7 linked regions of the Homo sapiens genome follow. The protein of the gene in region 4 purifies or fractionates together with the protein of the main gene of each other region. This does not show direct contact. Each region holds a gene or a part of one and is shown on either strand. Other genes may lie near its edges. The genes, in order: GATD3, TYR, VPS33B, PRKD2, CDK10, MCF2L and ZNF552.

Evidence for each region.
Region 1: the proteins of PRKD2 (region 4) and GATD3 purify together in Homo sapiens (affinity purification with mass spectrometry, with the first as the bait; one large-scale study listed by BioGRID). This does not show direct contact.
Region 2: the proteins of PRKD2 (region 4) and TYR purify together in Homo sapiens (affinity purification with mass spectrometry, with the first as the bait; one large-scale study listed by BioGRID). This does not show direct contact.
Region 3: the proteins of PRKD2 (region 4) and VPS33B purify together in Homo sapiens (affinity purification with mass spectrometry; one large-scale study listed by BioGRID and IntAct). This does not show direct contact.
Region 5: the proteins of PRKD2 (region 4) and CDK10 purify together in Homo sapiens (affinity purification with mass spectrometry; one large-scale study listed by BioGRID and IntAct). This does not show direct contact.
Region 6: the proteins of PRKD2 (region 4) and MCF2L purify together in Homo sapiens (affinity purification with mass spectrometry, with the first as the bait; one large-scale study listed by BioGRID). This does not show direct contact.
Region 7: the proteins of PRKD2 (region 4) and ZNF552 purify together in Homo sapiens (affinity purification with mass spectrometry, with the first as the bait; one large-scale study listed by BioGRID). This does not show direct contact.

Annotation. Positions count from the first base shown.
Region 1 is NC_000021.9:44,139,679-44,143,861, reverse strand, and holds part of GATD3 (glutamine amidotransferase-like class 1 domain-containing protein 3, mitochondrial isoform 1 precursor), read right to left. Parts: intron 3,613-4,183; coding exon 3,520-3,612; intron 2,921-3,519; coding exon of another isoform or gene 2,788-2,920; exon of another isoform or gene 2,699-2,787; coding exon of another isoform or gene 2,464-2,698; exon of another isoform or gene 2,447-2,463; intron 658-2,446; coding exon 501-657; intron 1-500.
Region 2 is NC_000011.10:89,180,425-89,184,607, forward strand, and holds part of TYR (tyrosinase precursor), read left to right. Parts: intron 1-4,183. UniProt on the Homo sapiens protein: This is a copper-containing oxidase that functions in the formation of pigments such as melanins and other polyphenolic compounds. Catalyzes the initial and rate limiting step in the cascade of reactions leading to melanin production from tyrosine.
Region 3 is NC_000015.10:90,998,148-91,002,330, forward strand, and holds the end of VPS33B (vacuolar protein sorting-associated protein 33B), read right to left. Parts: intron 4,036-4,183; coding exon 3,903-4,035; intron 3,316-3,902; coding exon 3,242-3,315; intron 2,445-3,241; coding exon 2,343-2,444; intron 1,829-2,342; coding exon 1,753-1,828; intron 1,647-1,752; coding exon 1,530-1,646; intron 908-1,529; coding exon 828-907; 3' UTR 526-827; downstream 1-525. UniProt on the Homo sapiens protein: May play a role in vesicle-mediated protein trafficking to lysosomal compartments and in membrane docking/fusion reactions of late endosomes/lysosomes.
Region 4 is NC_000019.10:46,692,699-46,696,881, forward strand, and holds part of PRKD2 (serine/threonine-protein kinase D2), read right to left. Parts: intron 1,436-4,183; coding exon 1,177-1,435; intron 1-1,176.
Region 5 is NC_000016.10:89,692,956-89,697,138, reverse strand, and holds the end of CDK10 (cyclin-dependent kinase 10), read right to left. Parts: intron 3,866-4,183; coding exon 3,813-3,865; intron 3,742-3,812; coding exon 3,672-3,741; intron 2,967-3,671; coding exon 2,907-2,966; intron 2,712-2,906; coding exon of another isoform or gene 2,594-2,711; exon of another isoform or gene 2,577-2,593; intron 2,571-2,576; coding exon of another isoform or gene 2,475-2,570; coding exon 2,351-2,474; intron 2,209-2,350; coding exon 2,069-2,208; intron 1,847-2,068; coding exon 1,794-1,846; intron 1,545-1,793; coding exon 1,447-1,544; 3' UTR 1,411-1,446; coding exon of another isoform or gene 1,364-1,410; 3' UTR 785-1,363; downstream 1-784. UniProt on the Homo sapiens protein: Cyclin-dependent kinase that phosphorylates the transcription factor ETS2 (in vitro) and positively controls its proteasomal degradation (in cells).
Region 6 is NC_000013.11:113,084,082-113,088,264, reverse strand, and holds part of MCF2L (guanine nucleotide exchange factor DBS), read right to left. Parts: intron 3,374-4,183; coding exon 3,281-3,373; intron 3,180-3,280; coding exon 3,087-3,179; intron 2,142-3,086; coding exon 2,016-2,141; intron 1,031-2,015; coding exon 809-1,030; intron 559-808; coding exon 466-558; intron 1-465. UniProt on the Homo sapiens protein: Guanine nucleotide exchange factor that catalyzes guanine nucleotide exchange on RHOA and CDC42, and thereby contributes to the regulation of RHOA and CDC42 signaling pathways. Seems to lack activity with RAC1.
Region 7 is NC_000019.10:57,806,033-57,809,381, forward strand, and holds the end of ZNF552 (zinc finger protein 552), read right to left. Parts: intron 3,072-3,349; coding exon 2,008-3,071; 3' UTR 1,050-2,007; downstream 1-1,049. UniProt on the Homo sapiens protein: May be involved in transcriptional regulation.

The sequences.
Region 1 (4,183 bases), on a different chromosome or scaffold from region 4:
GCCACCCAAACTGGCCTGAGAACTTCCGCCCAAATGAAGCCAGGAAGCCCCTTCTCCTGCACACCCGGCCGCTTTCCCCCAGCATCTCAGGAAGCCCCCGCCTCCTGCACGCCCGGCTGCTCTCCCTCCACACCTCGCACACACTCTTTCCTCACCCTCCCCCCGCTGGGCCCGGAGTGTGGCTGCCTGGGTGTTGCTGAGCAGACTAAACAGTCAGGCAAGGGACCTGGATCTGCCAGATCTGCCAACCACGCACCAGAGCTGCGCTTCTGACGTGTCTGTGACCCACCTCACACCAGCTGGGCTGTCACAGCCATCTGCTCTCTGCCCTTAGACACATGGCTGCGGTGCCCACTGGGGGAGGCCCCACAGGGAGAGCAGCAGGTGCAGCTCCCGGTGAAGAGGCCACCCACCAAGACAGCCCGGAGGGAGGGGCGTCCCTATGCACGTCTCAGGGACAAGCACGACAGCGGGCCGGGCCTGGCTACCAGGAAGGATATGACCACTTCCTTCACGCAGTGCTTGGCACCCAGGGCCTTGATGGCCTCTGCGGTCCCGGCATAAGGCCACTTGCCACCTTCCTCCTGCTCGTGGCCCACAGTCACCTCGACGCCTCTGAGCACCTTGGCCGCGAGGACAGGTGCAATGCAGCACAAGCTGAAAGGCGAAAAGAACACGGGTCAGGCAGGCTGCATGGCCTGCAGAACAGAAATTACCCTCGCCATGACCCCAGGCTGCCCTGCCACGGGAGCCCTGCCGACCCTGCCCCCTGTGAGCCTGCGCTGCCAGAAGGCTGTGGCCCATGGGATGTGATGGAGGTGGCACCAGGTGACTCAAGGCTGAGAGTGAGGTGTCCTCAGCCCCACTCCCCGCCAAGCACGCCCTGCAGGCACTCAAGCACCAGGCCAAGGACCCCTGAGGGGAACCCCCAACAGCCATGGGCTAAGCCCCAAGCCCCAGGACACCCCAGACTGGCGAGAGTCCCGGGCTGCCAAAGTCCACTCACAGAGAGGGTAATGATGTGCGGCTGCCCCAGCCCTGAGTTGTGGGGTGGTCTGTGACCCAGCAATAGATAACACAGCTGCACTTCTCATTCACACCAGCCCCCCTTCTACAGGAGGCACAACGGGCCAGGAGCAGCCTCGCCAGCCTCCGACCTGCAGCACAACTCTCAACAAGTGCAGGCTGGTGGACGCACGCCCCTGACCCTGACGCACAGGCCGCAGCAGCCCTGAAACTGAGGGTCCTGCCACACCCACCCCTGGGACCTGCTTCTGCTTCATCAGGAACCCCTCCCTGCCAAGTCAACAGAGGCCCCTGTGTGCCAGGCACTGTGCCCACAGCAGGGCCTTCAGTGACCTGTGTCGTCCAGCGCCTCATGGCCACCCAGGGGCAACAGTGGAAGGAGTACGGCCTCATTAACAGCAGCCCCATCCCCTGGCAACCTGTGGTGTAGCCCACAGCTGTCAGGCCCCACCCTGCCCTCAACACCCCGCACCCTTCATCCCTCCTCCCGCTGTCTACAGTCCTACCCACTCCCGACAGGCCCAGGTGGAAACTGCTACCGTGAGCTGTAACGAAACACTGTTAAAAACACATTTCACAGCCAGGTGCAGTGGCTCATGCCTGTAATCCCAGCACTTTGGGCAGCTGAGGCAGGCAGAACACCTGAGGTCGGGAGTTCGAGACCAGCCTGACTAACATGGCGAAAACTTGTCTCTATTAAAATTACAAAAGTTCGGCCTGGTGGCAGACACCTGTAATCCCAGCTACTTGGGAGGCTGAGGCAGGAGAATTGCTTGACCCCGGGAGGCGGAGGTTGCAGTGAGCCAAGATCACTCCAGCCTGGGCAACAGAGCGATACTCTCAAAACAAACCCGCCCCCAAAACTGCATGTCCTGAAGCAACTTCTGGCTGCCTATGAGATGAAACCCCCCTGCCGCCCTCTGCGCAGGCAGAAAGTCCAGGAAGCAGGTTCTCAGCAGCTCCCGACGCTGCGTGCAGCCGCCCAGCCATCAACTGCCAGCTACAGATGCCACAGTGGCTCCTGGCACAGCCCAGCGCCCACCTCGACTACTGCATTCAAGGAAGGGGTCCCAGCAGTGAGCGGCTGGGCCGCCTAACAGCCCCTGGCTGGCCACGCAGGCCTCTGACACCAGGCTGAGGGGTGGGTGGGGCCAGTGGGAAAGGATTTAGGTTTCCTCAGGAAAAAAGCCTGTGGGTCACCGTGCACGGAAGCCCCATGGCTGGACCGGGGAGCAGACGGGCTTGTGCCCTGCAGTTTTCAGGGGAGCCTCATGGCTGGACCGGGGAGGAGACAGGCTTGCGCCCTGTGCTGTTTCCAGGGGAGCCTCATGGCTGGATTGGGGAGGAGATGGGCTTGCGCCCCACACTGTTTTCAGGGGAGGCATGCTCAGAGGCAGTGGTTCACCTGCCAGGGGCTGTCTTGTTTCATCGAGATTTTTAATCAGTCACAGAAGAAAGGGCCATGGGCTCCTCCCTCTGGGCGCTCATCCAAGGAACACTTCTCTGACAAGGACGGGATCCCGAGGTGGAGACCATGGGCGAAACCTTCACCCCGGCTGTGACACGGCTGCAGCAGGGACCTCCTTCAGGAGCTCTGAGCCTGCACCTCTTCCTGAGGCTCCACTTTAGGGGCCTCCCTGGACAGTGACCAGGCAGGTCCTTAAGTGAGTGACTGTGGATGGGGAGACAGAGGATTCCGATAGATCCTCATCCTTGTTCGGCTGACAGAACTCGGTAGTGAGCGGCCATCGCGAGTGCGCCTCACTGATGTTCACCCACGCAAGTGCGGCTCTCGCCCTGCCAGCACCAGACGCAGCTGAGACCTGGACAGCACAGCGCCGCGTTCCAGGACCACCAAGGAGCAGGTGCCGGGAGGCTCGTGGAAGCATCACACCTGCCGAGGCGGAACCCGGCCTTGCTGGGTCACCCTCACACATCTGAGAGTGACTTCCCGGCAGCAGACGCTGAAGAGCACACACTCCCTGCGGGGCTGCGACCCGCCACGTAAGCCAAGGCGCTTACGTGGATGAAGGAGTGGGCGCCCTACTCGTGCCGCCAACCTCAGGACCCAGGCTTTGTCTGAGCAGGGACAAAGGGGCGTGGTTGGCTGTGGCTCCCCAGGAGGGAGGCCGCTGGGAGTGGATGGCGTCAGGGATGGAGCACGTGCTGCAGTGACTGGCCAGAAGTCAGCGGGGTTGGGGGTACTGTGGCTAAGGGGCTTGGGAGAAGGGGTCTGGTAAAGGATAGGGGTCCTGAGGGACTGCCTAGGGACACCTCTGGGAGCCAAGAGAATTCCAGGCCTCCTCTAGGGAAGTGCACTGTGCCTCTCCTTCCTGTTAAGTCACCAGTGACATCGTGTGAAATCCCCTCAGTTAAAACAAGAAAAGCAGCTGTGAGTTTTCAGGATCAGCGGCAGCTCCTGGCTGAGAACAGAGGCCGCGGGCCCACGCACCCTCCTCCCTCCCTCCCCGAGGCCTGCACGGCTGTACACACCCGATGGGCTTCCCGGCCTGGTGGAACTCCTTCAGGACACGCTCCACTTCTTTATTCACCTTGCAATCTTTCCCGTCCACGGCAAACGTGCTCCTACCGGGAGACAAAAGGCCTCCTCAGACAGCCTCACAACCAGGGTCTATTCCTGGGGGGCTTCCTAGGCACAGCTCCAGACCCTCAGTCAGCTGCAGCAAGGGACATGGGCATGGCTGCACATATGCGCGTTTGATGTGAACATATTTTCCTGTTTTTTAAACAGAAATAAGCATAGGAAGCAGGAGGATCAGGAAGTGGTGCAGCAGGAGGCCACCAGGGCGAGAGGGCCCACGCCCTGGAACCTTCCGGAGCAGCTGGCAGAACCCGGGCTGCGGTGCTGAGACTCAGACGCTGGTTTCCGGCTCCTAACTCCCGTGCTGCTTGTTAGCTTTCTGTTACGACGTTGGCTGTGTCGGGCCTCGGGCAGCCTCTGACCTTCCCGCCTGCCCTTTACCTGCCCCAAAGCAGGACTCTAATGTTCCCCGCCTTTCTGACTGTGGGTCTCAGGACCCTCTCCTGAGAGGGTCCCCCACTCCCCGGGGGAGAATGCTGACGTCATGTTTCCCTGAGCACTGTGAGCCACGCCAGCAAACGGGGTTGTGGGAACCCCAACTTGAAGCCAATTGGT
Region 2 (4,183 bases), on a different chromosome or scaffold from region 4:
TGAGATGTGTAATACCAGATGCTATCCACAACTGTATGAGTATTATTTTCCTAATTACTTATTAATTGTCAAGCAGAACTTTTTCCTTTTTCTCTCTTCATGAATGTGTTCAATTTTAATACTCTCTAGAAAAAAAAAAAAGTGTGTCAAGTCAGTAAGCCCTGAACTGAAATTGATACAATTATCAACTTCAACCTTGTTCTATGATTAAATTGCTGTGTAGAAACAGGTTTCAAAAATAAAATTAGAAAACAGAGTGGAAGGAAGATGACTGAAGAGAAACAAGCAAACCACAGTTTAAGAAAGGTGAAATGAGCATTTGCTGCTCACCTACTATGTTTTAGTAGTGTCAAGGGCTTATTAGTGGCAAAGGTGACAGTCAAACCCCACTCACATTGGCTGTTTCCATTCCTTCACACAGCCTCTCTGGTTACAAAGTCCTTAAAATAGTTAAGATCGATTGCTTACATTGCTTTAATTCAGAGTTCTCAATGTCAAAATCACCTAGGAAGCTTCCAAAAAACCATTTAAAAAGTAAAAATAAAAAACTGTTGCAAGGTTTTTATGCACCTAATTTCTTGCCAGAAATTCAGATTCAGGTGGTCTCCTGTGAGGTTGTAAAGTTCAAGAGTCTTTTTTTTTGGCAGTGGTGCAATCTCCATACGCTGCAACTTCCGCCTCCCAGGTTCAAGTGATTCTTCTGCCTCAGTCTCCCTAGTAGCTGGGACTACAGGGGCCTGCCACCACTCCCAGCTAATTTTTTGTACTTTTAGTAGAGATGGGGTTTCACCCTGTTGGCCAGGCTGCTCTTGAACTCTTGACCTCAAGTGATCTGTCCGCCTCAGACTCCCAAAGTGCTGGGATTGCAGGCCTGAGCCATCAAGCTGGGCCTTCAAGTGTTTGCATTTTTAAACCCTCATTTTGTGATTCTAATGTGCAGCCAGCACTGAGAATCATTGAGTTAATGGAGATTGTTTTGGTATCTTTTTACTTTCACTTTACAAAAACGCATGTTCTGTAATAAACACACCATTAATTTGAATGCCTTTGTCCAAATTGAATGCTTAAATTAAGAACTAGACTATTTGTGTGAGATGAGATCAAATAGTTTCTAGATTGAGTTAAGACCTTCCAAATTAGCTAGGCTGATGCACCTTTCACATAAAGCCTTCTTTTTTTATTGGTTTCAGATATCATTTTACTTGACCCCAAAATTGAGATTTGAGAGATTTGATAGCATTTATTAACTCTGAGCTGAGAGATCTTCAATTTTATTTAGGGTAACCTGTGCATTTTATTAAAAAACTATAGAAAAGCCTAAAATGGTAGGATGATTGTCCAAAGTCACACATCTGAGGACTAAAACCAAGCGGCTCTGACTGCAGTGCTTTTTAAGTCAACAATGTTATTTCTTGTTTATAAGGATCCATTTAGGTTCAGAAGGGGTCAAGTAACCCGCTAATTTCTGGGTGTATAATTTGACATTTGATCACGTTGACTCCCTTAAAATTGTCCTGCCCCAGACAACATAGGCAGACACAGTGATGTAGTCCTTTTAATTTATATCATAATGAAAATATTCTGAGACTTTTACTGATCCACCTCTGTTACTCAGGTAGAGTTGACCCTCTCCCCGTCTTTGTGCTATCATTGTACTTTATACAGATTTGTATCATAGCACTTGTAACTTTTCATTACATGTAGTGGTTTTCCAGCCTGTCTGTATCTGCCAGCCTGTCAGTCGCTCCAAGGTGGTGATCATTTCTAAATATTTTTGTATCCACAGAGCACAGGACTATAATATACACATGGAACAGGCTTTATAAATACATGCTGAATTTAACATCAAAGAAACGTTAGCTCCAATGCTAACATACATAAAATATTAAACTCTGCATGGGTAGATTTCTAGGACCATTCACTGCAGTTTTTTTATAGCACTGGATTCCCAATGCCAAGGATACAACAATGTCAACAATAGCCACTTACTCAAATTTGGGTATAATATATCTTGTGTCGTTCTCTCTGGTAGTTCCATATGTATGTCTGCGTGTGTGCATGCAAAGAAAGACAATACAAGAGAGAAGATGAAGCAAGGTGCAACATAGCTGAGTGTGATTTAAATGAAGTTAATATTTATTGGTCAGAGTTTTCTGTTAAATATGTTAAAATCAGGTAATTAATTTATTTGGAAATATTGTGTTCCTAATTCATGTCTGTTGTTTGCTCATTTATTTAACTCCCAAAGCTTTAAATTAGGGGCCATGTTTATCATCAATTAAAATAGTTCATTATATTTGGAGGTGGAGGGTTGCTTAATAACATTTAAGTACAAACTACCCATGCTCAATATAATTAGATCTAATGTTATGCAACCAACAGATCAGCTAGCTACAAAAATAAAAGGGGTATCAGGAATAGGTGTCATCATGAACAGAAACAAAGAGGAAAAAACATTTCCTAGCTGATACACATGAGTGAATTGTGACCAGGGAATTCACTCATCAGGTGAAAAGCACATCACATGGAAGCAAAGAGAAGAAAAAAAGTCACATTTCAGCAGAGAGTCATGGGTTTTAGGTAACCATGACGACAGCTCAGTGAAATAACAGCTTCTCTTTTTTCTTTATGAAAAAGATTTTGTGGAATGTCATACGGTTTACATTTTTTCCCCCAGATAAACCTCTAATGCTATAACAAAATCTTTGCTCCCAAAAGCTTTTAATATCTGGCAGTTTATTGCTATTTCTTTAAATTTAAGAGAACAGTATTTAGGTTCACCTTCCTCATTAATATATCTATTTCTTCTATCTCCCCTTTTTTCTTTGACTTGGAACACTTGATCGTCCCCCCAGCATATGTTATAAATCACTTGCGTTGAAATAGAAAAAAAACAGAGTCATCATCAGAACATCCAGGCTCAAATTCTACCCCTGCCATTTAGTAGACGACATTGGACCAGTTATTTAAAATCTTTGACCTTTGTTTTTTCCAAAGAGAAAAAAAATGAGGTAGAATTACCATCTATACATGTTTTGTGTGTGTGCTAATAGGAGGATTAAATGGAATGGGAAACAGAATAATGTAGTGGAAAGAGTATAGTCTTTTCAGTCACATCAGCATGAATTTGAGTGAACTTTCATACTTACTTAGCTACAAGACCCTAAGTTACTTAATTATTCTGAGACGATTTTTGTCCCTAAAATTAGAATAATATAGGTTAAAGCATTACTGTGAAGGGATTCAATAAGATGTGTTTATATGGCTTGTTTAGGATCTGACCTATTGTTTGAGTTTCATGTGTGGAAATAATATATTTTTAAATGATACATCAAAGTTAGATATAATAATGAATATTCAAACAGTGTTATACACCCAAAGTTAAAAACAATTTGGTGACCTGCCCAATGGTCTTGTTTTCAAAAATAATTATGATAGTTGTCATTATTAAACACTTTACACTTGGCACTATGCTAAGTGCTTTATACATGTTAGATTATTTGATCATTGATAGAAACGTATAATTCCCATTTACAGATGAAAAAACTTAATACCCAGAGAGCTTAAGTAACTTGCCCAAGGCCATGTAACTAATAGGGTCAGTATTGGAAACCAGGTCTTTCTGACTAGAATCTTCATGATCATAAGCACAATGCTAATATAATTTCTCCTAGCCTGCCTCCTCTCCTGTATGCAGTGTAAAGACTAAGGTTTGGAGTTTTTCAAATTATTTCTGGAACCAGGGTAGATTTTCTCCTCGTTAGTAATACCTCCAGTCATCCGAACACTTAGTCACTTGGCAGTTGGCATTTCAGCAAAAATAGTTTCATTCAAGCCTCTCTAATTTAACTGAGTTGGCTGTAGGAGTCTTTAAGGCAGCAGGATCTTTTGAAAATATCCTGAGATTACTCAAAGAGGAATAAAAATGATTTAGTCTACATACTTGTAGCGTCCAGTTAACCCAAATTATAAAAGCATCCAACATATTACATTCAATGTAAAAGTTAGGTTAGTTTTATTCAACCATTCCTAAGCCATTAACACGTCATAATTAATGTAGTGGGTATTGCTTCAGAATAAGGAAACTTGTGTTTCAGTGCTTTGGTTTTGACTCTAAATATCATATGGCCCTAAGACAAGTCACTCAACAGTTCTAGTTCTCAATTATATATGGATAAAAGGA
Region 3 (4,183 bases), on a different chromosome or scaffold from region 4:
CGGGGTTCAAGCGTTCCTCTTGCCTCGGCCTCCAAAAGTGCAGTGATTACAGGCATGAGCCACAGCACCTGGCCTATATTTCATCATTTTTAAAAGGTAAAGAGAGAGAGAAAGGCTACTAGCATCAGTAATGAGGAGGGTGCTGGCACATTTATAGGAGCACTGTTTGCTGATGCCTGAAATGGCTCTAATGGCACACAATCTTTCATTCTGCAATAAGAAACAAACGCTTAAAATTGAAGTGCCTCCTTAAATTAAAACAACAAAGTCATTTTCTCAAAAATGTAATGAATCACAACATTTTAGAACTGGAAACGTGCTTGCTGGTCACCTCAGCCATCTCCCTCATTTTATGGTAGAGGAAACTCAGGTACAGAGTGGTAGAGTGATTTTTACAGGGAAGAACCAGACCAGGCCTGGAGCCACTACAAAGTCCAGGCCAAGAAGCACAGGAAGCCCCTGTAGCAAGCTCCAATGGGCTTTCACTAATAAAGATGGAAGTGCGTGTCCAGAACGACCAACGTATTACATCTGAGAGCAGAGGCTTTATTTACAATGACATTCAAACAGGATTTAGCAAAGGATGCCTCTTCCTGCTCGCATCTTAGCAGCATGGGTTGTACTTCATAAACAGAAAAGAGAAATATCCTGGGAGCAGGAAGTGAACTCTTTTCTCAGATAATGTTCTCTAAATCCCAACACGTTCCATGCTCCCGGCTCTTAGCAGGTAGTTGGTGGACACTTGGTTATAGCAGCTGGGTGCCAGATGCCTGCATCTCACTGAGGAATGTGTTCAGGGAAGATGTCAACACTGGCCGGGAAAAACATCAGGCTTTCACCTCACTCATGGCCTCCATAAGGCGAGCGCTGTTTGTGACTGCTGTCGTCAGGAAAATGAACCTGTAGCCTAAGGAGTCAAATGCAGCAGCAGAAGAGACAGCACAGATCTTAGGCCCCAACGGCAACCCATAGAGCCTCTCCAGTTCCACAGTCCCCACGGGATCACAGCACCAGTTTATAGACAGAGACGTGAGTGCCATGCTCTTGGGCACCACTGCTTTCTATGACTGGTATAACTGGGCTCCCTGCTGTGGCAGCCCAGAGTTAAGGCTATGGCAAGTTGTATTCTGAGGCCAGGAGAAAAATATTCCTGTGCAGGACACTTTGCGTGTTTTTTTTTTTTCTCTTGAGATGGAGTTTTGCTATTGTTGCCCAGGCTGGAGTGCAATGGTGCAATCTCAGCTCACTGCAACCTCCACCTCCCGGGTTCAAGCAATTCTCCTGCCTCAGCCTCCCGAGTAGTTAGCATTACAGGCACCGGCCACCATGCCTGGCTAATTTTTGTATTTTTCGTAGAGATGGGGTTTCACCATGTTGGTCAGGCTAGGCTCTAACTCCTGACCTCAGGTGATCTGCCCGCCTCCGCCTCCCAAAGTGCTGAGATTACAGGTATGAACCACCGTGCCCAGCTGACACTTTGTTACCCAGATACAATGCAGGCCAATTCTCACCTTTCTGCTCTCTCTTACCTTTCTCTCTGCCCAGGAACCGGAGGGCTGAGATCTCAGAGAATGTACAACCACCCAAGAACACCACCAAGATGAGGCGCAGGGACTCACTGGAAGCCTTGTCTTCCTTAGTCATATCTGTGAGGATCAGACCAGATTCAGCCCTTCCCTGACATGCTAGTCCTGAGTGGTGCATCCAGCCCACCTCTCACTGCCAGCCTACCCCACTGTTAATGCCACATACCTGTGAATGCAAAGTCACTGCAGTTGAGCAGCCGTACCACCTCATCAAGGCCCTGCCAGCTTCGCCGCTCTAGCACCTGGGAAGGTGTAAGCACTGTTTTTAAGGCTACAGACAGTATCAGGCTTAGGAAAGGAAGGGCACAGCAGCCAGACTGTCACATTTCTTGCTCATTACTCAAGTAGCAAAAAGTTGAGACAGGGCCAGGTGTGGTGGCTCACGCCTGTAATTCCAACACTTTAGGAGTTTGAGGCGGGGGGATCACCTGAGGTCAGGAGTTCGAGACCAGCCTGGTCAACATATAGTTGGCCCTGTCTATATGAAACCCCATCTCTACTAAAAATACAAAAATTAGCTGGGTGCAGTGGCACATGCCTGTAGTCCCAGCTACTTCGGAAGCTGAGGCAGGAGAATCACTTGAATCTGGGAGGTGGAGGTTGCAGTGAGCCAAGATCGTGCCACCGCACTCCAGCCTGGGTGACAGAGCAAGACTCCATCTCAAATAAAAAAAAAAAAACATTGAGACACGCCAGGGACCAAGAGAAAGCAGAGAGAATGAAATATGAATGGGAGCAAGAATTACATGCTCTCACCTGCTCAATGATTCGGCAGCTCAGGGGCACATAAGCACCACCGAAGACGTAAGCCATGTCTCGGGGCACTTTCAGATCATACTCGCCGTCCACACGTGGGATCTGTAAGACAAAGGGACTTCATTAGGCAAGTGACAGCTCAGCTCCCTAACCCTTTAAAGGGTCAGATAAAGTGGCATGGCCCAAGGAACAATTCTTATTTCAACTAAAGGGAGAACCAGCAATAGCCCTGAAAAGAGAATCCATAACGGAAGATGGCAGTTTTTGTTCAGTAACTGCCAGTTCTCTGGAATGAGTTCCCATGCGCCATTATTGAATAATGTAAAGGGGCTGGAGGGATGGCTTCTCCTTTCCCTACCCTTAAGTGACACAGGATATGGTTGTCACTGAAGCAGCACTTAGAATATTCTCTGGCATTGGCAGGTGCTTGTTACATGTTGATTAAATGAATGAATCTACCATGCTATAAGACTACCAAACAAAAGAATCTTTATACACATGAAATGACAAAAAGGTTTTTGTGGATTCAAAGTACTCCACAATGGGCTGGGCGCAGTGGCTCATGCCTGTAATCCCAGCACTTTGGGAGGCCGAGGTGGGCGGATCACCTGAGGTCAGAAGTTCAAGACCAGCCTGGCCAACATGGGGAAACCTTGTCTCTACTAAAAATACAAAAATTAGCTGGGCGTGGTGGCACATGCCTGTAATCCCTTGGGAGGCTGAGGCAGGAGAATCACTTGAACCTGGGAGGCAGAGGTTGCAGTGAGCTGAGATTGTGCCACTGCACTCCAGCCTGGGCAACAGAGCAAGATTCCATCTCAAAAAAAAAAAAAAAAAAGAAAAGTACTCCACAATGGAATGAACCCACTGTCTCCCCTAACCATCCCTGTTCCACATACCAAATTCAGCTTTTTGCTGATGGCACGAAAATTGCTCCTCTTGGCCAGAGAACTGAAGGCATCAGTAATCTTTCCTGGGGAAGAAATCTGTGTCAGGTTTCACCTAAGGTCTATGGATTCATGACACTGCCACAGATAACACCATTCAGGACACGACAGCACCAATCACATCCAAAAACTCTCGGAAGCTGTTCAACTATAATTCCCTGGAACTAATCAAGATATACTCCCCACCCTTCTCCCCACCCACAGTCTTCCCCCTCCTACGGGGTACCAGCTCTCTACTAAATGCAATCCACAGGGTAACCCGAGTTTATTGGTATGTGCTTTGGGAGTTAAACCGACCTAACTTACTAACTAAGGGACCTTGGACAAATCACTTAATTCTCTAAGCCTCAGTTTCATCATAAAATGAGGATGAGAAAATTTATCTCACAGTCTTTGTGAGATTAAATGAGAAACTAAAGGGCTCAGCACATGGTAAGTGTTTACTATGTGGAAACTGCTCTTACTAGCAGAAGTAGTAGTAATAATAGTAATGACATTAATAGGAAGGAATCAGTCCACCTTCTCCAATTCATTCTGTCCCTCCCAGCATGCTGCGTGTTGAGAGAAGTCAGGACAACAGCTGGAGCAGGGGTCACTTGTGCTCCCTGCTTACCTGCAGCCTTGTCGGTCACCAGCTTGCTCACTTTACTCTCCACGGCTGTGAGGGTGTCCCCGGGGGCCTGCTCCGTTAGGAGCCCAGCTCTTCGCAGATTGGAGAAGGTTAGCAGGTGCTCAGGGCCATAGCTCTGAAGAAGATGCAATTAGACTATTTACTGAGTGTCCAAAGAGCATCTAGTACTGTCAGGTACTACAGAGTTGAGCAGAAGGACTATGAAGCCTCTGCTGCAGTGTGAAGGAGCTCACACTTTGTTGAGATAAATTTTCACATCAGAA
Region 4 (4,183 bases):
CTACCTCTGACTTCTACCCCCAACATGCTATTCCTGACACACTGGCCTCCTTGCTCGGCCTCAAATACAGCAAACTCTCTTCTGCCTTCTGGTCTCTGCATATGCTGTTTCCCCTGCCAGGAATACTCTTTCCTTCATCCTAGACTTAGCTAAATCCTCCTCATCCTCAAGTGTAAGCTCAAATGTCACTCCTAGGACCAAGTTGGATTACTCTCGCAAATGCTCTGCATCACACTCGTTGCTTGTATGGGTTAATGATCAATGTCTGTCACCCACACTGGATTATAAGCTCCAGAGGGTGGGAACCTGGTACTCTCTCAACATTTTTTGCCTCTGCCTAAAATGACCTCCCATTTTCTTTCCCACATCTCACCCTGCCTCGGCCTCCAGATCTCAGTTCAGATGTCACCTCCTCCAGGAAGCCCCCCTATATACCCAGATTGGGTCAGGTACCCCTCTGGGCTCCTCTAGCTCCCTAGCTTCCTTGTCCCAACCCTGCCCACCCTGGACTGTCACTCTCTGAAGATGGGTATTCTGCCCTACTGGACTCTGAGCCCCATGAGGGCAGGTCTTGGGCTGTCCTGGCCACCACTGGGTCCCCAGCACTGTCCCGCACAGAGGAGGCACTCAGTAAGTGCATGAGGACTTATCAGCACCTGGGACAAGGCTCATGGAGGGGAAGTGATATGCCCAGGGCCACATATCAGGCCAGGAGCTTAACAGAGATTTGTTGTGGATTTTTGTTGTTGTTGTTTTTTCTGTTTTGGAGACAGAGTCTTGCTCTGTCACCCAGACTGGAGTGCAGTGATGCAATCATGACTCACTACTCCCAGGCTCAAGCAATTCTCCTGCCTCAGCCTTCCAAGTACCTGGAACTACAGGTGTGCACCACCACACCTGGCTAATTGTTTTTATTTTTTGTAGAGATGGAATCTCATTATGTTGCCCAGGCTGGTCTTGAACTCCTGGCCTCAAGTGATCCTCCCTCCTTGGCTTCCCAAAGCGCTGGGATTAACAGGAGTGATTAACAGAGTTTGAACCCAGGCCTGCTGAGTCCAGAAGCTGCGTTCTCAACCCCACCATTGCCCACTTTCCTCTTTGGCCCTTCCATTCCCCAGAACCGTGCCCCACCCATCTAGATCTATTCTCTCAAGGACCCGAGGTGGGAGGACTTACTGTGGGGCGCGTGGCCTGGGGCGCTGGGTGCGTCCTGAAGGATGACGGGCATCAGGGCCTGGCGGATGGCTGTCTCCCAGCCCCGGGCGGCCTCAGCCCCCTGCCCACTTGGCCCACCCGGAGTCCCGCCAGGCATCTCGCCCACGAAGTAGGTGGCATTGGCAGTGACGATCTCAAAGCAGTGTGGGTTGGTGCCCGGCGGCACAAGGCTGAAGTTCTGGGCGGACTCCACCGTGAGGATTTCTGACAGCGGAATTTCCTGCAGGACGTGGAACCAGCACAGGTGAGGATGCCAGGCAGACCTTGGAATTCTAGTGCTTACCCAGAAGGATACACGGGATCCATGTTGATAGGGATGGGCCTGGTTTGCACAGTGGTCAGACAAGTTCCCAGTAATTCTAAGCCTGTTCTCACTGTTCTTTTATAATTACTGGCAGAGGCCAGGTGCGGTGGCTCATGCCTGTAATCCCAACACTTTGGAAGGCCGAGGTGGGCAGCTCACTTGAGGTCAGGAGTTCGAGACCAGCCTGGCCAACATGGCAAAATCCCGTCTCTACTGAAAATACAAAAATTAGCCAGGCGTGGTGGTGTGCGCCTGTAATCCCAGCTAATCGGGAGGCTGAGGCAGGAAAATCGCTTGCACCTGGGAGGCGGTGGTTGTAATGAGCCAAGATCGCACCACTGCACTCCAGCCTGGGCGACAGAGTGAGATTCCGTCTCAAAAATAATAATAATAATACTAATTACTGGCAGAAGTGATATTGAAGCAGAGACCAGAAAGGTAAGAAGCAGCCAGTTGGCAAGGAGTAGGGGAACAGCATGTGCAAAGGCCCTAAGGAAAGGCTATGCTCAAAAGCCAAGCTGTATCCCCATCACATGGGCGGTGCCTGGACATAGTAAAAGCTTGATAAACATTTGATGGCCGGATGTGGTGGCTCGTGCCTGTACTCCCAGCACTTTGGGAGGCCGAGGTGGGCAGATGGCCCAGGAGTTCAAGACCAGCCTGGGCAACACAGTGAGACCCCAGCTCTACAAAAAATTTAAAAATTAGGCATGGTGCCACAAGCCTGTAATCCCAGCACTTTGGGAGGCCAAGGCAGGCAGATCGCTGGAGCCCAGGAGTTTGAGACCAGCCAGAGCAACACAATGAGACCCCCATCTCTACAAAAAATAAAAAAACTAGCCAGGTGTGGTGGTGCGCACCTGTAATCCCAGCTACTGTGGAGGTGGGAGAATCATTTGAGCCAGGGAGGCAGAGGTTACAGTGAGCCATGATCATGCCACTGCACCTGGGAGACAGGGCAAGAGCCTGTCTCAAAATAAATAAATGGGCTGGGCATGGTGGCTCATGCCTGTAATCCCAACACTTTGGGAGGCCAAGGCAGGCGGATCACAAAGTCAGGAGTTCGAGACCCGCCTGACCAACATGGTGAAAGCCCATCTCTACTAAAAATACAAAAATTAGCCAGGCGTGGTGGCACACCTATAATCCTAGCTACTTGGGAGGCTGAGGCAGAAGAATCACTTGAACCCCGGAGGCGGAGGTTGCAGTGAGCCAAGATCGCGCCACTGCACTCCAGCCTGGGTGACAGAGCGAGACTCCGTCTCAAAAATAAACGTTTGATAATAAATGGAGGAAATGAGGCCACACAGGGCTTTGCGGGCCACAAGGAAGAGCCTGGGCTTTGTCCAAGGGCCCTAGGAAGCCACTGAAGGCTTTTGAGCATCATCCGCTTGTGTGCGGAGGGCAGATGGAATAGAATGAGATGGAGACAGAGAACCAGGAAGGAGGCTGAGGGGACCCAGGCGGGACAGAAGGCACAGGGACTATGGGGTGGGAAACGTGTCAAAAGAGGAAGGAGGGAGGTAGGAGAGAGGAAAGAATGAATGACTTAGGCAGCCCATAAAACCAGGTGATGACATGGACACGTCGGGGGGGCATGGTGAGGACAGCATTATATTTTATTTTATTTTATTTTTTTGAGATGGAGTCTTGCTCTGTTGCCCAGGCAGGAGTGCAGTGACGCGATCTCAGCTCACTGCAACCTCCACCTCCCAGGTTCAAGCAATTCTCCTGCCTCAGCCTCCCAAGTAGCTGGGGTTATAGGCACCCGCCACCATGCCCAGCTAATTTTTGTATTTTTAGTACAGACAAGGTTTCACCATATTGGCCAGGCTGGTTTCGAACTCATGATCTCAAGTGATCCGCCCACCTCGGCCTCTGAAAGCGCTGGGATTACAGGCGTGAGCCACCACGCCTGGCCAAGGACAGCATTTTAGATGGTGTGGTCTGAGCAAAATGGGAAGATGATAAGGAACCAGCCATGGAAAGTTCAAGGAAGACGCTCCAGGGCAGGTAACAGCTGGAGTCCAGGTTTTATTACTCTAAGACAATGGGAGCCACTGGGGGGTTTGACGGTTTTAATGAAGACTCCCCTGGCTGTGGGGGAAATGACAGAGGTTGTGAGGTCAGAAGCAAGGACCCTGCAAGGAGAAGGCTGAAACCATCCAGGTGGAAGACAGTGGCTGGGACACAGTGTGGGCATGGGAGGTGGTGACGAATACGCACACAATGCAATACATTAATTATAAAGAAATAGTGAGGCCGGGTGCGGTGGCTCATGCCTGTAATCCCAGCACTTTGGGAGGCCGAGGGGGGCAGATCATGAGGTCAAGAGATCAAGACCATCCTGTCCAACATGGTGAAACCCCGTCTCTACTAAAAATACAAAAATTAGCTGGGTGTGGTGGCATTCACCTGTAGTCCTAGGGTGGGAGGCTGAGGCAGGAGAATCGCTTGAACCCGGGAAGCGGAGGTTGCAGTGAGCCGAGATCGCGCCACTGCACTCCAGCTGGGCGACAGAGTGAGACTCTGTCTCAAAAAATAAATAAATAACAAAAAATAAAGGAATAGTGAGAACAGCCTTAGAATTACTGGGAGCTTAATATATACCACGCCTTAAGCCAATTGGTTTAGTGGATTGGCTCTTTGAATTCTCGCACCAGC
Region 5 (4,183 bases), on a different chromosome or scaffold from region 4:
AAGCCGGCCAGCAGGAGCCTTTCCACATTTCCCCACCCTCGGAACCCAGACGCATGCCCACATGTGCTGGGTAGAGGGGTCCAGCCTGTTCCAGCCAGTGCCTGAACCTGTCCCTGAGAAGGACCCTGTGCCCCAAGGCCCGTGGCTCCTGGCCTGCTCCCTGCAGTACGGAGTACGGGGCTCAGGACTTGGGGGTCCTCCACGTGTCCCAGGGATTCTCCACACGAGTGTCCTCAAGGGCCTGTTGGTGACACCGAGCTCCCCCCACCCCAAGCTCTGCTGGAGCCAATCTGCGGGGCTCTGCCGGGTGCACGGCTGACCTGGCTTCGGGGACGCCGGCCCTCCCCTTGGGTGTCACAGCAGCTGGGCCCACAGACAGGAAATGACCTGACCTCAAACCAGATGTGGAGGTGCACGAGAGGCGCAGGAACGGGCAGTGGCTGACAGCTGGGAAGGCCCTGAGCGTCACTGCTGCTGGGCGGAAGGGCCTGTGGACAGCCCGCCCAGGCGGCGGGGTCTTGGTGGGTCCAGTGGTAATGGTGCCCCTCCCCTCCATTCCCTGTGGGTGCAGCCCACAGGCTGGCGAGGAGGTGCCTCTGCCCTACCCTCGGGTCTGGCGAGGGAGAGGGCAGGGTGCATCCACTGTGACAGCCCCTCTGGGCCCACAACTCCCTGACCCTGGAAGCTGAGCCTGCTTTCCTGACCCTCCGCCCCACCCCCTCCTCCCCAGAACACTCAGAGGGACGGTCAACATCAGAGCACATTAAACGCTGGTGAAACCATGTCTGTTAAAAAAGCTTTTATCCAACAAGAGCCTATAGCTTCGCTCAGCATCAGAGCCACGGCCTCCTGTTGGGTCCTCCATGTGGGGAGCAGGGATGCAGCTCAGCCTCCAGCCCAGGGCTCTCCTGGTAGTCTCGGGGTATCCTCAATTGTGGCTCCCACCCCATACCTTGTCCCTCTTGTCCTCATCTGGAGTCCTGCCAGGCCCACCTGGGGTCCCCACAGCCAACCCATGCACGGGACAGCCCCGGGCGACTGAGAGGGGATACGAAGGTCTTCTGGGCCCTCTCATCCCAGGCCAGCGTCCACCACAACTCAAAGACAGCGGGGGGACTGCACCCACCACTCCTCCCAAGAAGCAGTGGTTGCACATTTCCAACATAGCGAGGAGGACCACATGAGACCCCTGCAGCCACGGATGGAGCCGCCAGACCTGCCCTTCCAGGGTGCACGGGCTGGGAGCCCCCCGGTGTCACCCGGCCTTTTTCTGGGGGCAGCAGTGGGTTCAGGGCAGACAGTGGGAGGAAGTCAGTGGAGGATGTTCCCAGCCAAGGGGATGAGCTGGATCCCGGGCGCCTGGTCAGCCTGGCTCGCGGCACCCTTCACAGACACCACTGATCGGAAGACCTGGTGTGGGAATACAGGCGTGTGCCAGGCCCACCGTCAGGGTTTACAGCGCTTGCTCTGGCCCTCGGAGGTGGCTGGGGCGGCCCGCTTGTTGCGGTGGTGGGGAAAGGTCGGCATGAGCTCCGGCTCACAGGCTGCAGGGAGAAGGGTTCAGTGCTGGGCGGGGCAGGGCCCCAGATAGGAGGAGCAGGCCCAGGTCTGAGTCCAGCTCTGCCTCTGGACCTGGCCCTGGGCTGTCTGTGCCTCCACATGCCCCTGTCCTCTTACCCCAGAAAGGGTGTGCCGTCAGTGAGGGCAGCAGGCCACTTCTCCACCACCCACCCCGGGCAAAACGGGCTCCCAGCCATACCCCACAGAGCGAGTCAGGAACCCTGCACACTCACGTAGGGGCTTCTCCTTGAAATAGGAGCTCTCCAGGCAGTCCCCGGCCGTCGCCCTGGAGGAGGCAGCCTGCGTTAGTGCGACTTGTGAGTGCGGCTTCCTCACCTCCCACCCAGCTGAGCAGCCTGTGATTCAAATGCTCAAAGGAAGCCAGGTGGCCACTCCGAGCGGCTGTGCCTGGGGAGGGGCCTCTCCACCGCAGTGAGGCTGGGCTCTGGGAAACGGTCTGGACAGTGTGGGTGGTGAGGGTCCCTGCCCCCCGTGCAGAGATCAGCACCTTTTCTTAGGGTCGTACATGAACAGGAAGTGCAGCAGGCGCAGCCCGGCCTCCGACAGCCATGGGAACTTGTGCTTCAGGTTGTTGTAGGGCTGCTTCCGGAGGCTGTACTGGCCGACCAGTGGCAGCTTGGAAAAGCCCTATGGGAGGCAGGAGCTGAGGCGCAGAGGGCGTGGGCACGGGCGGGGGCTGCGGGCGCAGAGGGCGTGGGCACGGGCGGGGGCTGCGGGCGCAGAGGGCGTGGGCACGGGCGGGGGCTGCGGGTCTGCCCAGGACGCCCACCGGCCAGATGTTCTCACTGGGCGTGCCCAGCAGCTGCACGATCAAGTCGATCTGGTGGATCTCGGAAGTGCCGGGGAGAAGAGGCCTGTGCGCCAGCAGCTCGGCCAGTATGCAGCCCACAGCCCTGCAGAGAACAGTGGACCTCACTGCGGCCAGACGTCTGCTGACCCCGCCAGCGCGAGGAACAGAGGACCTGACTGCAGCCAGACCTTTGCTGACCCTGCCAGTGTGAGGCACGCTGGGTCAGGGACACTGTGAAGGACAGGCAGGGACCACTGGCTCCCCTCCTGGGCCCCGCAGGCCTCCCGGGGTGACAAGTGCAGGGGCAGGCGTGCCTCCTCCAGACCTCTGTGCTCCCAGCCTGAGAACAGCAAGCTAAGTTCTCACACCTCCTCCTGGGTTTCCAGGCTCAGGCCCACCTCCCTGGGAGTGGGAGGCTGGCAAAGACCCCACTGCACTCCTGCCCCTCCCCTGAGGCTGAGCTCAGGAACCAGGTGACCCGGCTCCTGTCCCAGCCCTTCCTGAGGCCCCAGGAGCGGTAACCGTATCTCCTCACCACATGTCGATGCTGGTGGTCTGCGTGGTGGTTCCCAACAGCAGTTCAGGGGCTCGGTACCTACACACAGAAGCACCCACCTCAATACAGCCGGCTCCTCTCCCCCAGCCCAGGCCTCCACAGGACACAGCCTCCCCGAGAGCCTGTGGTGGCCTGGAAACCTGTCCCAACTCGGACCACCCTCTGCCCCAGGCCCTGCAGATCCAGGTGGCACACACAGCAATGGTTGCCGGGGGCGAGAGCTGTCACGTGCAGCGGTGTCCTGAGAGTCGCAGGGACCACGGACCCTCGGCACACAGCCACACCAGCCACTACCAACCCGTTCTCAGATGGGGAGTACACGACACTGGGGTCCTGACCTGATTCTGACCAACTCTGATATTCAGCCCTGGCTAAGCATGACCCTGTTTGGTTAAAAGTATCCAGGAGGAAGAACCAGGGAAAGCATGCAAGCTGCCTGTCCTTCAGTCCGTGAAGCAGCCTTCCCTCCAGAGATGGTTTCACGGCCACGGTGTTTCCAGCTCTCAAGGCGAGGTGTGTCTGATCTAGGCAGGCCCTTGACGCCACTGAGCCCGTCTCTCACCATTTTGTGGCACAGCCCTGCTGTGTCCTGGAGGCTGTCCTAGACCCAACGTTTCTGAGTGTGCACAGACCCTGTAGCTTAACATTCCCAAGGCCAGTTGCAGCTTCGGCCTGACATCCCCAAGGAGACCTCCACCAGACAGGCCTGGTCCCCAGGGGCCACCATGCTTCAGAAGGACTTACCAGAGAGTGACCACCTTGGGGGTCATTGGCTTTACTGGGACACCATAGGCCCGGGCCAGGCCGAAATCCGCTGCAGCAGAGAGGGGAGTGTGTGTCACCAAGTGCCATCTAGGGACAGGGCCTGGCCCAAGTTGCACCCACCTGTCTTCACACAACCCTTGTCGGTCATGAGCAAGTTGGAAACCTTCAGGTCCCTGTGATGGAAAAACAGTGGCAGGTGGCTCCCAGAGGGCCACAGGGGCTGAGAGCTCCCCCACGGCACCAATGCCCGTAGACTTCCTGCACGTTTCCTCAGCTTTGGGCTTTTTAGTATCTTTTTTTTTTTTTTTTGAGACAGAGTCTCACTCTGTCGCCCAGGCTGGAGTGCAGTGGAGCAATCCCGGCTCACTGCAAGCTCCGCCTCCCGGGTTCACGCCATTCTCCTGCCTCGGCCTCCCAAGTAGCTGGGACTACAGGCGCCCGCCACCACGCCCGGCTAATTTTTTTGTATTTTTAGTAGAGATGGGGTTTCA
Region 6 (4,183 bases), on a different chromosome or scaffold from region 4:
TTTCACTCTCGGAACATCCAAAGATAATCTTAGGAGTCAAAGGTCAGGTGGCTGCGTGTGAGGGGAGAGGAGGAAAGCACTGTGGGTGGCCCCGCATTGCGGGACCCTCTGTGCCCCATGCACGGGACTGACTGAAGAACTGTGCCTGGCACCCAGGGCACGGCACCCTCCCCACCGTGAGAATCGGCCCTGCGTGCCAGATGCACACTTGCACCGTCCAGGGACACATGAGCTCCCCTGGGGAGGGAGAGCCCGTTTCCTCGCAGCACCCCGTCTGATGTGTACTTTTCCCCACATTTCATTCTGGGTCCAGCTCAGGGTGAAGACAGCCCAGGGCAGCATCCTGAAGTGTACAGCGGCTGCTCCTGGGCTCGATGCAACTTCATGGCAGATCCTTGCACTGGTTCCCATGAGAAACCATTCGTGGCAATGTGTAAGAGGCCAGGGGTAGGGTGGGTGGCCCACCTGGACGATGTAGACCTCCTCGCGCGCGTTGTACCAGATCTCGAACTTCTTAGCATCTCCCTTCACGTTCTCCGTAATGCCAACGGCAGCCATCTGCGAGCAGAGAGTGGAGATGGGGTTCGCGTGCACAGTGAACCCACTGCCTTGTTTTTAAAAGGTGTTGGTGCAGGCACGAAATGATGGAAATACTTTGGGGGTGAGGGCTAAGAATGGCAGAATACCCCACCCCTACACCTAAGGCTGAGAGCTGGGTGTCAGCGTGGCCACCTCAGACCGAGTTACAGACTTCCCCCGTCGGGGTCTGTGGCCAGGAGCGTGCTGCTGCAGACCCGGCCTCACTTACGTTTAAGGACTGCTTGTAGCTGTAGGAGGGAGCTTTCTCATACCCCTCCCCATTCTCCTCCCTCTTCTTGCAGAAGAGCACTGCCTTCTCGTGCAGGAACAGGTGCCGCTGCATGGGCTTGAACCTGGCCAGCTCCTTCACCTTGGTGTGGCCCCTCTTGTGGTCGGTCCAGACGCTGAACGAGCCCTGCATCAGCAGCTTGCCCAGGTCGCCGAGATTCCCCTAAATGTGCGACAGCAGGGCTGTGTTCAGGACGGGATGGGCCTGGGGCCATGGACGCGCATCGCTGAGTGAAAGCAGCCACTCTGCAAAGCCCACCCACGGTGGGATTCCAGCTGCAGGGCGTCCCAGGAAAGGCAAGCTCGTGGAGACTGACAGGTCAGCAGGTGCCAGGGGCTGGGGGAGGAGGGATGGACTGGCGGGGCACATGGGCTTCTAGGACAGTGAAGCTGCTCTGTGTGATGCTCTAGCGCTGGGTGTAGGATGTTACACGCCTGTCCAAACCGCAGAATGCACAGCACCCAGAGTGAGCTCCAAGGGGAACGGCCCTCAGTCACTAATCAGCATCAGCGCTAGTTCACCATGTGTGGCAGGTGTGGCACCCATGCTAAATGTCAACACTAGGGGAAGCCTCAGGGCCTCTGATTTATACTCAATTATCTCACAAACCAAAAATTGCTGCAATAAATCAACTCTATTAGTTAAAAAAAAAACACCTGAGAATGAGTGCTGGGTGGACATAAAGACGGACAAAAGATGAATAAGCTGTGACCTGATGTGGGGCTCTACGGGGAAAGTGACATCTGCCTTCTGGGGCCACTTGCTCTAAGTCACCAGCCTGCAAATCGCAGCCCAGAAAACAGAAGTCACGTCTGCTCCGAGCCACGCCTCCTCCCCAGGAGAAGACAAGGAGTGAGGAGGTCTGAGCTGCGTTCCTGCTGGAGATGCGTGCCCTCCAAGCAAGGGACGCTTCCTGATTTTCTCCACGTCCCAGAGAGCCCAGTGGGGTCTGTGGACCCGGCTGTGGGGTCTGTGGACCCGGCTGTGGGGCCTGGGAGTGGGCTTATCTAGGGACCACCCCAGACCTCCTGCCCAGAACCTGCACATTCACACCAAAGCGAGGGGCGTGTGCAGGGAGGCCGCCAAGTTGCTGGGCTGGTGTATTCCACGGAGGCGGCGGGGAAGACCGGGCATCTGGGCGCCTTACGTCATAGCCGGTGATAGCGATGAGGTGCATGGAGTCGTTCACGGCCTTCAGGATGCCCAGGATGGAGCTCAGCGCCTCCTGCAGGTCCTCAGCCCCCTCGCAGTTCCTGCTGTATTTCAGCATTTCCTGAGGGGCATGGGGTGAGGCAACCGCGTCGGGACACGGAGAGCCCTGGCTCCCCTGGAACAGACCCCTCAGGAGCTTGGCACGAGGTAGGGATGCTGCTCACCCTCCCCTGGTCTGTGGGGAGCTGCCCTGCCTGCCCTCCTGCAGCTGGGACAGACTGAGTGGTGCTGCAGATGGGGCAGCACCCCTGCCAGGTGCAGACCCTTGGCACCTGCTCCCCGGGGAGCTCCCTCCTGCCACCCGGATGCCAGGTGCAAACCCCTCGCACCTGCTCCCCGGGGAGCTCCCTCCTGCCACCCGGATGCCAGGTGCAAACCCCTCGCACCTGCTCCCCGGGGAGCTCCCTCCTGCCACCCTGATGCCAGGTGCAAACCCCTCGCACCTGCTCCCCGGGGAGCTCCCTCCTGCCACCCTGATGCCAGGTGCAAACCCCTCGCACCTGCTCCCCGGGGAGCTCCCTCCTGCCACCCTGATGCCAGGTGCAAACCCCTCGCACCTGCTCCCTGGGGAGTTTCCTCTCGCCACCCTAACCCTGGCCAAAGGCATGGAGTTGCAGTTTCCTGCCTGAAGGTTAGAGGGACCCACATGGCAAACTCATAGCTGGAATCCCCAGTCTAGGCCGCCCCACGTCCCTGCTGTGTGCCAGATAATCCGGGCACGGCTCCACCCTGGAGGGACGGGTCAGCACATCACACAGAATCCCATGTGGGCTGGGCTGTGTGCCAACCCATGGGGACGGGGACTCGTCTGCTCACCTGCGTCCTCAGACCCCTAACAGTGGCGCACAGTAGGACCTCGAAAGGCATCCCAGCCTCAGCACAGGCTCGGAAGAGGTGCCCTTGGCCTGGGAGGGGCAGGGCGCGATGGGGACGGGGCCCCAGGGCGGCACAGACACCTGGCCAGCAGGTGCTGGGGAGGCCGGGCCACGGTCACCGCGGAGCCCACCTTGAGCAGCAGCTGGTACTTGGTGATCCTCTGCACTGGCTTCAGCAGGTAGGAGTCCAGGCTCAGCTTGTGGTCCAGCTTTCTCTGGCATTCCTGGAACCAACCCAGAGCCTTTGGTTTGCACAATTTTCATTATTCCTCAGGAGTCGGCTAGGAAAGGGAGTAACGTTCTAAAGGAAGGTCCGGGGACAAACCTGGAAAAACGGGCAGTCGGAGCACTGTCTCCACAGGCTCTCAGAGCGGGGCTTGTTCTGACAGTACTTCTCATAGATCTGGAAATCTTCCATCTGCACCGAGGGACAGGCACCGCATCACGCAGTGAGGGATGGGCAGCGCATCACGCGGTGAGGGACGGGCACCGCATTACGCGGTGAGGGACGGGCACCGCATCACGCAGCGTCTTCCCGGCCCTGCGAGGCATTGCTGCTGGCCCCATAGCTTCCGAGGGCCGGCACTGGCTCCCAGGCTCCGCTGGGGGGCCTGCCCTCCATTAATGGGGCTCCCTGTCCCAGAGCCCCTGACTTCCCAGAGCACAGGCGTGGAGTGGAGACGGGGTTCCACCGCAGCCATTCTTAGAAGGCCATTTATGGTGTGGTTTGTTGATTTGTTTATATAATAGAACTTCTAGCATTTTCTCTGGCAGTTTTACAAATTACCTGTTATTTAGCAAAAAACAGACCCTAGCCCCATTGTGAAGTGCAATTGCTCCTGGGTGCCTCTAGGGCACAGATGGTTCTAGGGGCACAGAAGGTTTTAAGGCACAGGGCTCAGAAGTTTCTAAGGGACAGGAAGTTCTGGGGGCAAAGGAGGTTCTGGGGGTACAGAAGGTTCTGGGGTTCAGGAGGTTCTGGGGTACAGGAGGTCCTGGGGTACAGGAGGTTCTGGGGGTTCAGGACGTTTTCTGGGGTTCAGGAGGTTTTCTGGGGTTCAGGAGGTTCTGGGGGTTCAGGAGGTTCTAGGGGTACAGGAGCATCATGGTATCTCAGCCAAATTGAAAACATCGTATTTTGTGATTTCAGTTGGTTAGAATAGGAACTTGCAGTAGAATCTGAAGTCATTATTCAGTACTTTTAAGAAGTTGTGACAAAATACACGTC
Region 7 (3,349 bases), about 11 Mb from region 4:
ATGTTTTTGTTTTATTTTTTTTGAGACAGCGTCTAACTGTCGCCTAGGCTGGAGTGCAGTGGTGTGATCTCAGCTCACTGTAACCTCTGTTGCCTGGGTTCAAGTGATTCTCCTGCCTCAGCCTCCTGAGTAGCTGGGATTACAGGCATGTGCCACCACGCCTGGCTAATTTTTGTATTTTTAGTAGAGATGGCGTTTCACTATGTTGGCCAGGCTGGTCTCAAACTCCTGACCTCAAGTGATCCACCCACCTTGGCCTCCCAAAGTGCTGGGATTACAGGCGTGAGCCACCACGCCTGGCCTCAGAATCAATTACAGGCGCAGTGGCTCACGACTCAGGCCTGTAATCCCAGCACTTTGGGAGTCCAAGGCAGGCAGATCATTTGAGGCCAGGAGTCTGAGATGAACCTGGTAACACGGCAAAACCCCATCTCTTCTAAAAATCAAAAAACAGCCAGCATGGTGGCTCATGCATGTAATCCCAGCTATGTGGGAGGCTCAGGTGGGAGAATCGCTTGAACCTGGGAGGTAGAGGTTGCAATGAGCCAAAATCACGCCACTGCACTCCAACCTGGTCGACAGTCTTTAAAAAAAAAAAAAAAGCAGCCGCACGCGATGGCTCATGCCTGTAATGCTAGCACTATGGGAGGCCGAGATGGGCGGATCACAAGGTCAGGAGATCGAGACGATCCTGGCTAACACAGTGAAACCCTGTCTCTACTAAAAATACAAAAAATTAGCCAGGCGTGTTTGCGGGCGCCTGTAGTCCACAGGACTGGCTGAGGCAGGACAATGGCGTGAACCCGGAAGGCAGAGCTTGCAGTGACCTGAGATTGCCCCACTGCACTCCAGCCTGGGGGACAGAGTGAGACTCCACCTCAAAAAAAAAAACACAAAAAAACACAAGCAGCAACTCAAATATCCATAAACGGATGAATGAATATATAATGACATTTCATGGCAGACTATACTTCTCAGCAATATACAACAAATTAACTCATGTCTACATTGATATCAAAATAAGCATGATGCAGGAGAGCACCCAGGGATTATAAGAGGAAACACTTTATTACATCAGTCAGAAAATTCTAGAAAATGGAAAGTATTATACAGCAGAGTAAATCAATGGTTGTCTGCATAGAGAAAAACTTTATAAAGGCTCCAGGTGAATACAAAGGTGATAGATTAGATAAATTCATTATTGTGACTCTGATGATGGTTTCATGGGATTATAAGAAAATTCAAGCCAGGAGCAGTGGCTCACGCCTGCAATCCCAACACTTTGAGAGGCCAAGGCGGGCAGATCACGAGGTCAGGAGATTGAGAACTTCCTGGCTAACAGGGTGAAACCCCATCTCTACTAAAAATACAAAAAAGGTAGGAGTGGTGGTGGTTGCCTGTAGTCCCAGCTATTAGGGAGGCTGAGGCAGGAGAATGGCATGAACCCAGGAGGCAGGGCTTGCAGTGAGCCGAGATTATGCCACTGTACTCCAGCCTGGGTGACAGAGCGAGGCTGTCTCAAAAAAAAGAAAAAGAAAATTCAAGACTTATCCTACAGCTCAAATATGCATACTTTATTGGATGTCATTTATATATTTTATTTTTGAAACAGGGTCTCACTCTGTGGTCCAGACTGGACTGCAGTGTTGCAATCTCGGCTCACTGCAACCTCTGCCTCCCAGGCTCAAGCAAATCCTCCCATGTAGCAATCCTCCCACATGACAGCTCTCCTGTGAGTTATGCAGCCAGACTTCTGGATAAATATCCTGTATTTGTCACACTAGTAAGGCCTTCATTCAGTGTTAACTATAATCCTGAAGGAATACAGAGGTGTGGCTACAAAACTGCCCAAATTTATTTTACTTGTAAGGACTCTTCTCTAGTGTGAACTCTCCAATATCCAAGGAGAGCAGACCTTTGGGTAAACATTTTCCACATTTGCTGCAATCACAGGATCTTACTCAGGTGTGTATTCTCCAATATTTAATGAGACTGGACTCACTGCACTCATAAGCCCTTTCTTTTGTGAACTCTCTGATGATGACGAAGTGAAGAGATTTGCCTAAATTTTTTTTCACATTCACTGCACCCGTAAGGCTTTTCTCCAGTGTGAACTCTCCTGTGTTTAGTGAGACTGGAGCTTTCGGCAAAAGATTTCCCACATTCACTGCACTCATAAGGCTTCTGACCAGTGTGAACTCTCTTATGAACACGGAATGTAGAGCTGTGGGTAAATGACTTCCCACAATCACTGCATTCATATGGCCTTTCTCCAGTGTGAACTCTCTGGTGTGCAATGAGGTGGTACTTGTGCCTAAAAAATTTCTGACAAACCTCACACTCATATGGCTTCTCTCCAGTGTGAATTCTCTGGTGTACAAGGAGGTGGGACTTACTGTTAAATAATTTCCCACATATCCCACACGTATAAGGTTTTTCTCTAGTGTGAACTCCTTGATGATTACTGAAGCTGTCATATTTGCTAGAGGATTTCCCACATTCACACCACACAGAAGGTTCTTCTGTAGGGAGCAGTCTCTCGTGCTGACTGAGTATATCTTTGGTGCTAAAATGTTTCATGCATCCTCCACAGCTGTAATGGCTTTTTCCCCCATGAAACAGAGACACACACTCAGTTTTGCTGTTTGACTTCCCAGTGTGAGTGGCCTCTTGCTGGAGTAATCCTGACCTGAGCAAAAAGTCTTTCCCACTCTCACTGAAGACAGATGACTCCCCTGACACATGCAACTTACACCTCTTCGCAAACAACGCCTCCTCAACACTCCCTCTGTAGGGTTTCTCTCCAATGTGCTCATTCTGGTGCTGATGAAAGTTTCCACTGTCATACAATTTATTCCCCCAGGCCTCACACCTGTGCAGTTTCTGCTTGTGATGTGTTCCCTGATGATCTGCCACATGCAAAATGTCTCCCAAGATCGGGCCACACATCTCACAGGGGTGGGCCTTCTTGGGAGACACACCTGCCATAGGAGTCCTGACCTGAGTCTCTCTTTGTATATAAATACTCTGCTTAGAAGGTGCCGCCTCATCTTCCACTCCACACCAACAACCTGAAAGCAAGAAAATGCTGGTGAAGTGCATGTTAACTCTGGTGGGAAGGCACAGACCACCCACAAGTGTATCTGAAAAACTGAGGAATTACTCCAAGGAAGTACTTGGAGGAACAGGATGTTGGCTTCAGGTGGAAGATGGTGCTATGTATTATTACTGGACTATAATGGTCACAGAATGTAGGAGGCCTCATAACATAAAGGACACAACCATGTATGTAACACAGGGAGTAGAGGCAGGGTCTACAATCCCTGCATCTGCAAACCACTCATCTGCA